Linked DNA regions of Homo sapiens. The protein of the gene in region 1 interacts with the protein of each later gene in a biochemical or structural test. Each region holds a gene or a part of one and is shown in the gene's direction. Other genes may lie near its edges. The genes, in order: TAF12 and NFYB.

Region 1 (3,831 bases):
CTTGCTTCCTTGTTTAAATTTTGTGGACTATTTCACTTAATATTTGGAAATGAGATGGTTTCTAAATATCAGCTGAGAGTAATAAACATTCTTCATTCCCTCAATTTTTAACCTGTGGATATTAAATGGTCACCATTCCATATATACTGAAGAACCCTCAAAGTCTAACAGACCTCATTTTACTTACTTTTTTTTTTTTTTTTTTTTCTTGGTAGAGACTAGGTCTCGCTATGTTGCCCAAGCTGGTCTTGAACTACTGGGCTCAAGTGATGCTACCACCTGGGCCTCCCAAAGTGCTGGGATTACAGTTGTGAGCCATTGCACCAGGCCTCTTTTTACTCTCAAGATTCATCCTTTATTACAGGTTCTTCTAGAGCTAATTCTTGTGCTTTTCTTCTCCAGTTAATTGGCCTTGGTCCTCACAGCTCCAAAAAGAAACAGGATCTCGATAAGCTCTATGAGCTGAAGTCCAAAGCTCGGCAGATTATGAACCAGTTTGGCCCCTCAGCCCTAATCAACCTCTCCAATTTCTCATCCATAAAACCGGAACCAGCCAGCACCCCTCCACAAGGCTCCATGGCCAATAGTACTGCAGTGGTAAAGATACCAGGCACTCCTGGGGCAGGAGGTCGTCTTAGCCCTGAAAACAATCAGGTATCATCCTCTTACTCTTTCTTCTCTGTAGCCACTTCTTACCTATTATTTCAATCTGTAATACTTTAAGAGATGTCCATCTCAGATGCTGCTTTTTTCTCTTAGCCGAAAAGGTCTTTTCCCTCTTTTGGATTTCTAACTTTTTTTGTTTGTTTTAATATAAGTAGAGAGTTTATTTGGGCCAAATTTGAGGACTCCCAATTCAGGAGACACAGATTCAAGTTGTCCTGAATGTATACTCCTCTGGGAACATTCTTTAGCAAATTATCATGTACAATGTTTATTAATTACTGTATTGTATGTGGTTGTGTGTATGCATATATACATCCATCCATCCATCTGTACACACTAACACAATACCTTGCCTATGAAAGGTGTTTTTTTCCTTTCATTTTGATAAGTGCTTTATATACATGTTAACCATGTAGTTGTTAAATAAAATAATAAATTGATTCATTATTCCTATGATAAAAGTACTCTTGCTTCTAGTCATTCCATCTTCTAGTTCATCCAATTGCTGCCATTATTAATTTTCTGCAGTGATTCTAAAATCTGCTCCATTCTTTCTACCCATAATTCTGATTCTGCCCTCCAGAGCCACAAGAAATAAGTATAATCCCTTTGACTTGTTTTTTGTAGGCTGTGTAGAATGGATGAGTTCGCCCAGTATTTCAAGGGAATGAGTGGAGGGACTTGCAAAGATTAATGAGAGCGGGTTGGGCAGTCAGGATATCAACCTATGTTGAATATGGAGTCTGTTGTAGAAGACAGAATTTAAAATTGTATAGGTAGGGCAGAACATAGTGGACCTGTACTAGTCAATTTCCATTGGAACTTTTAGGCAATATACAATCTTTGCAGATATTTAATAAAGGAGTAAAAGTAACATAATAAAAATAGTGTGTCCTATAGAGGATTAACTTGGCAGTAAGGGGACAGGATGGGTAGAAAAGGGGGTTAGACTGGGTGGATGACCAATTCTAAGATTTTTGCAATAAATCAAGACATGTAGTGAAGGCTCGAATTAGGTGATAATGATAGAATGAAGAAGAATGGATAGATATGAGACATCATTAACAAATATTTATTCATTTTTTTTAGAGAAAGGGTTTTGCTCTGTTGCCTGGGCTAGAGTGCAATGGTATAATCATAGCTCACTGTAGCCTCAAATTTCTGGGTTCGGCCGGGCATGGTGGCTCAAGCCTGTAATCCCAGCACTTTGGGAGGCCGAGGTGGGCGGATCACGAGGTCAGATCAAGACCATCCTGGCTAACACGGTGAAACCCCGTCTCTACTAAAAATACAAAAACATTAGCCAGGCGTGGTGGCAGGCGCCTGTAGTCCCAGCTACTCGGGAGGCTGAGGCAGGAGAATGGCGTGAACCCAGGAGGTGGAGCTTGCAGTGAGCAGAGATTGCGCCACTGCACTCCAGCCTGGGCGACAGAGCGAGACTCTGTTGCAAAAAAAAAAATTATTTTCTTGGGTGTGCGCGGTAGCTCACGCCTGTAATCCCAGCACTTTGGGAGGCCAAGGCAGGCGATAACCCAAGGTCAAGAGTTCGAGACCAGCCTGGCCAATATGCTGAAACCCCATCTCTACTAAAATTACAAAAATCAACCTGGCATGGTGGTGCACACCTGTAGTCCCAGCTACTCAGGAGGCTGAGGCAAAAGAATCACCTGAACCCGGGAGGCAGAGGTTGCAGTGAGCCGAGATTACACCACTGCACTCCAGCCTGGGTGATAGAACGAGATTCCGTCTCAAAAAAAAAAAAAATTTTTTTTCTTTTTTCCTTATTTCAAAAGTTATATGTGTTCATCACAGAAACTTCAGAAATACACAAAGAATAAATAGCCTATAATTCTAATGCCACCACCCTAAAATAGCCATGGTTAGCATTTTAGTGTATGTCTTTTGGTGTTTTTCTTTTTTTCCTCTGTCTGTCTCTCTCTCTTTTTTTTTTTTGAGACAGAGTCTCGCTCTATCACCCAGGATGGAGTGCAATGGCATAATCTTGGCTCACTGCAACCTCCTCCTCCCAATTCAAGCTATTCTCCTGCCTCAGCCTCCCTAATAGTTGGAATTATAGGCACCCACACCATGCCCAGCTAATTTTTGTATTTTCAGTAGAGACAGGGTTTCGCCATGTTGGTCAGGCTGGTCTCAAACTCCTGACTTCAGGTTATCCACCCGCCTCAGCCTCCCAAAGTGCTAGGATTACAGGCATGAGCCACCGTACCCGGCTTTTTTTTTTTTTTTTTTTTTTCAGTGGAATTTTACTAGAAGGTTTAGAGCAGGAAAGAAAGGAAAGTACACTTGGAAGAGACTCAAATGGGCACTGAGGAGGTCAAGTGCCTAACTTTTTCTTTTTTCTTAATTTATTTTTTATATATTTTTTAGATTTTTTTTTTTTTTTGAGATGGAGTCTCACTCTGTTGCCCAGGCTGGAGTGCAGTGGCGCAATCTCGTCTCACTGCAAGCTCTGCCTCCCGGGTTCACGCCATTCTCCTGCCTCAGCCTCCCAAGTAGCTGGGACTACAGGCGCCCGCCACCACGCCTGGCTAATTTTTTTTTTTGCATTTTTAGTAGAGACAGGGTTTCACCGTGTTAGCCAGGATGGTCTCAGTCTTCTCACCTCGTGATCCGCTCACCTCGGTCTCCCAAAGTACTGGGATTACAGGCATGAGCCACTGCACCCAGCCATTTTGTAGATGTTTTTTTTAAATAGAGATGCAGTCTCGCCATGTTGCCCAGGCTGGTCTTTGAACTCCTGGGCTCAGGTAGTCCTCCCACCTCGGCCTTCCAAAGTGGTGGGATTACAGGCGTGAGCCACTGTGCCAGGCCCTTTTTTTTGTTTGTTTCTTAAGACATGAGGTCTTCCTGTGTTCCCCAGGCTGGAGTGTAGTGGCACAATCATAGCTCACTGCAGTCTCTAACTCCTGGCCTCAAGTGATCCTCCTGCCTCAGCCTGCTGAGTAGCTGGGACTACAGGCACAGATCACTGTGCCTGGCTTTCTTTTGATTACTTTTTAATGGCATACGTATGTAACATGACATTTCCTTTATGAAGGCTGCCCTCAGGGAGCTTTTAGCCTATTAAGTCAGAAACAGGGAAGTATATAAATATGCACAATGATAAAGGGTACACAGGATACAGTAGAGGCCAAAGGAGGAAGT
Region 2 (2,643 bases), on another chromosome or scaffold:
GATTGTTAGCAATGATTCATACTAAGTATCTAATGGTATTTTTGGAATGTCAGCAGTGAGTATTTTGACAAAGCACTATTTTAAATAGTTCTTATCAGTTCATGCCCTTTTATTTGAAGTCAGTGAGTGATAAGTGTAGAAAAGTTTAATTCTGTAGACATTATAACCTTTCACTGATAGTTCTGACTGAGTTCTGTAGCCCCTAGTTTTTGGTGAAGATTCATATGAGATAGGAATATTAAGGAAAAGTTTGTAATATAAAATCTTATGATTTAAATAAATTTCAACTCAGTTTTTTTTAAATTGAGTATCATGTTGTCATATTGGTGAAATAAAAGGGCTATGTTGAGTAAATTTCTCATTATATATATTTCTCATATGTAAACTATATGCTGCTCAGTTATATGTTGCTCCTAGCCAAACCTCATGGTGTAGTGTAGTTTAATCATGAATCAGAAACTTCATCCAGTCTGTCTACAGATTTGTACACATGGGCAGTTAGCTAAGGTACATGTTAGAGATAGGAAAATTGAAAAACGCAATATAAAATAATGTGGTTTTTAGGGAACATTTTTTAAAATGGAAAATTGGAGGATTTATTATTTTGTCCAAGACTACATCATTGATACCGGGCAGAATTGTAATGAGACATTAATGGTACAACCTTAAGATACAACCCAAGAAAGTAGATATAGTTCATTTCCCTCTTTAACTAATTTTTTTTCTTTTAGCTAACCAGTTACCAGCTGGCTTAATAACCACAGACGGTCAACAACAAAATGTTATGGTTTACACAACATCATATCAACAGGTACAGTCCTTTGTATTTTAAATGCTTAAAAAATTTGATTGTATCGACAGGGCCCCATGGCTCATGCCTGTAATCCCAGCACCTTGGGAGGCCGAGGTGGGTGGATCACCTGAGGTCAGGAGTTCAAGACCAGCCTGGCCAACATGGTGAAACCCTGTCTCTACTAAAAATACAAAAATTAGCTGGGCGTCATGGCGTGTACCTGTAATCCCCTCTGCTTGGAGGCTGAGGCAGGAGAATCACTTGAACCCTGGAGGTGGAGGTTGCAGTGAGCTGAGATCACACCACTGCACTCCAGCCTGGGCAATAGAGTGAGACTCTGTCTCAAAAAAAAAATTTTTTTTTTATTATATCTATTGATATAGTTAATTTCAACATGCTATTAAGGACCTGATAAAGAAGGTTATTAAAATTGTGTTTTCTCAATGTAGATAACAGTATATAGTGTTCTCTTAATAGTTAAAAATAAGCATATGTTCATATTTGCATAGGAGATTTCTAGAAAGATACACAAGAAATGGGAATTAGACTTGTTATTGTCTTTTTATTCACTGAATTTTTATAATATGCATATGGTACTTTTAATCTCCTTTTCTTTAATTCTGCTCAATTTAAATTTTCTAATCTTAGATTTCTGGTGTTCAGCAAATTCAGTTTTCATGATCTGAAGAAATGATGGAATGGGGAGTGTAGAGAAATGAGAGTCTGTATGATTCTGGAACAGAGACATCAGAAGGAAAGACTGGTGAAAAGATGTATCTTTGTATATTAATAGCTGTAATGTAGCTTCCTGATGCTTGACTAATTGAGGTGTTAATTCTGACTTGAGAATCTTTTTCATGAATGATTTTAAAGAAAAATTTGGATTTTAAAGGTATTAAAATATTTTTGTTTTGTACGAGAGTTTGTTGCTCTGTATGACTCCTGTATGCATTGTATATTGCAATTTATTACTGTCAGAGATTTGTAGACAGTTTCTTATTTTCATATTGAATCATGTTACTTTTGTAATTCAAGTAAGCGGCTGGGTTAATTCATGATGTTTGCCCTTTTAATAAAATATAAGGGTAGAGTTCATTTTGAATGCAAGTTGCCTTTATTATAAATTTGAGTTTGTCTTGGTTATACCTTGCATGATAACCTAGCTAGATTTCTAGCATTTGCTGTATTTATTAAAATTATTATTTTTTTGGTAAAACATTAATAGTTTAAGCAGCATCATTTTTTTAAAAAATGTAATTGAATAAGTGTGAATGCAGAAGCAAATATTGTCTGCCCTGTTAAACTTGGTGCCCATTAACAGTGTTTACACTGTTCATCGTGCCTGTTAATGTAGTTTTAGTTACTGGAGCTTTTTTAAGACTAGATTTGGTTTTGAGTTACATTTTTAAGAATGTGGGAATATATTTAAGTTTAATGTAGTCCTAGTGCTCTTGAAATGGTGCCCCTTTCATTTGGTACATGATTTTTTTTCAAATCATATCTTCAAGTACTATAGTATTCTCTTACAGAAGAGGAGTTTTATAGTCTGATGGTAAATGTCTTCATTTTACCTTTTTAATTGAAATGTCAAGTTTCCTGTTACACTATGGAAACCAAGAAACATCAGACATCATTGCGTGTACAGACCTTTTGCATGGGTGAGTGGATGAAATGGAGAACAGAGTGAGTGCTGTGAACGGTGTGAAATAGAAGCCAACTTCTAGTATGCTGTCTTCATCTCTGCAATAAACTAAACGTAAATAATGTAACTTTGTATAATTTAGTAGTATGTACTTGGATTGTTTCTTTTTGAAAAGTGAGGATTTGTATTTTCTCATCTATTCTTTTTG

What was found.
Region 2: the proteins of TAF12 (region 1) and NFYB form a complex in vitro, tested with the Homo sapiens proteins (one study listed by BioGRID).

Annotation. Positions count from the first base shown.
Region 1 is NC_000001.11:28,618,737-28,622,567, reverse strand, and holds part of TAF12 (transcription initiation factor TFIID subunit 12), read left to right. Parts: intron 1-402; coding exon of another isoform or gene 403-486; coding exon 487-654; intron 655-3,831. UniProt on the Homo sapiens protein: The TFIID basal transcription factor complex plays a major role in the initiation of RNA polymerase II (Pol II)-dependent transcription.
Region 2 is NC_000012.12:104,118,568-104,121,210, reverse strand, and holds part of NFYB (nuclear transcription factor Y subunit beta), read left to right. Parts: intron 1-731; coding exon 732-811; intron 812-1,441; coding exon 1,442-1,474; coding exon of another isoform or gene 1,475-1,479; 3' UTR 1,480-2,643. UniProt on the Homo sapiens protein: Component of the sequence-specific heterotrimeric transcription factor (NF-Y) which specifically recognizes a 5'-CCAAT-3' box motif found in the promoters of its target genes.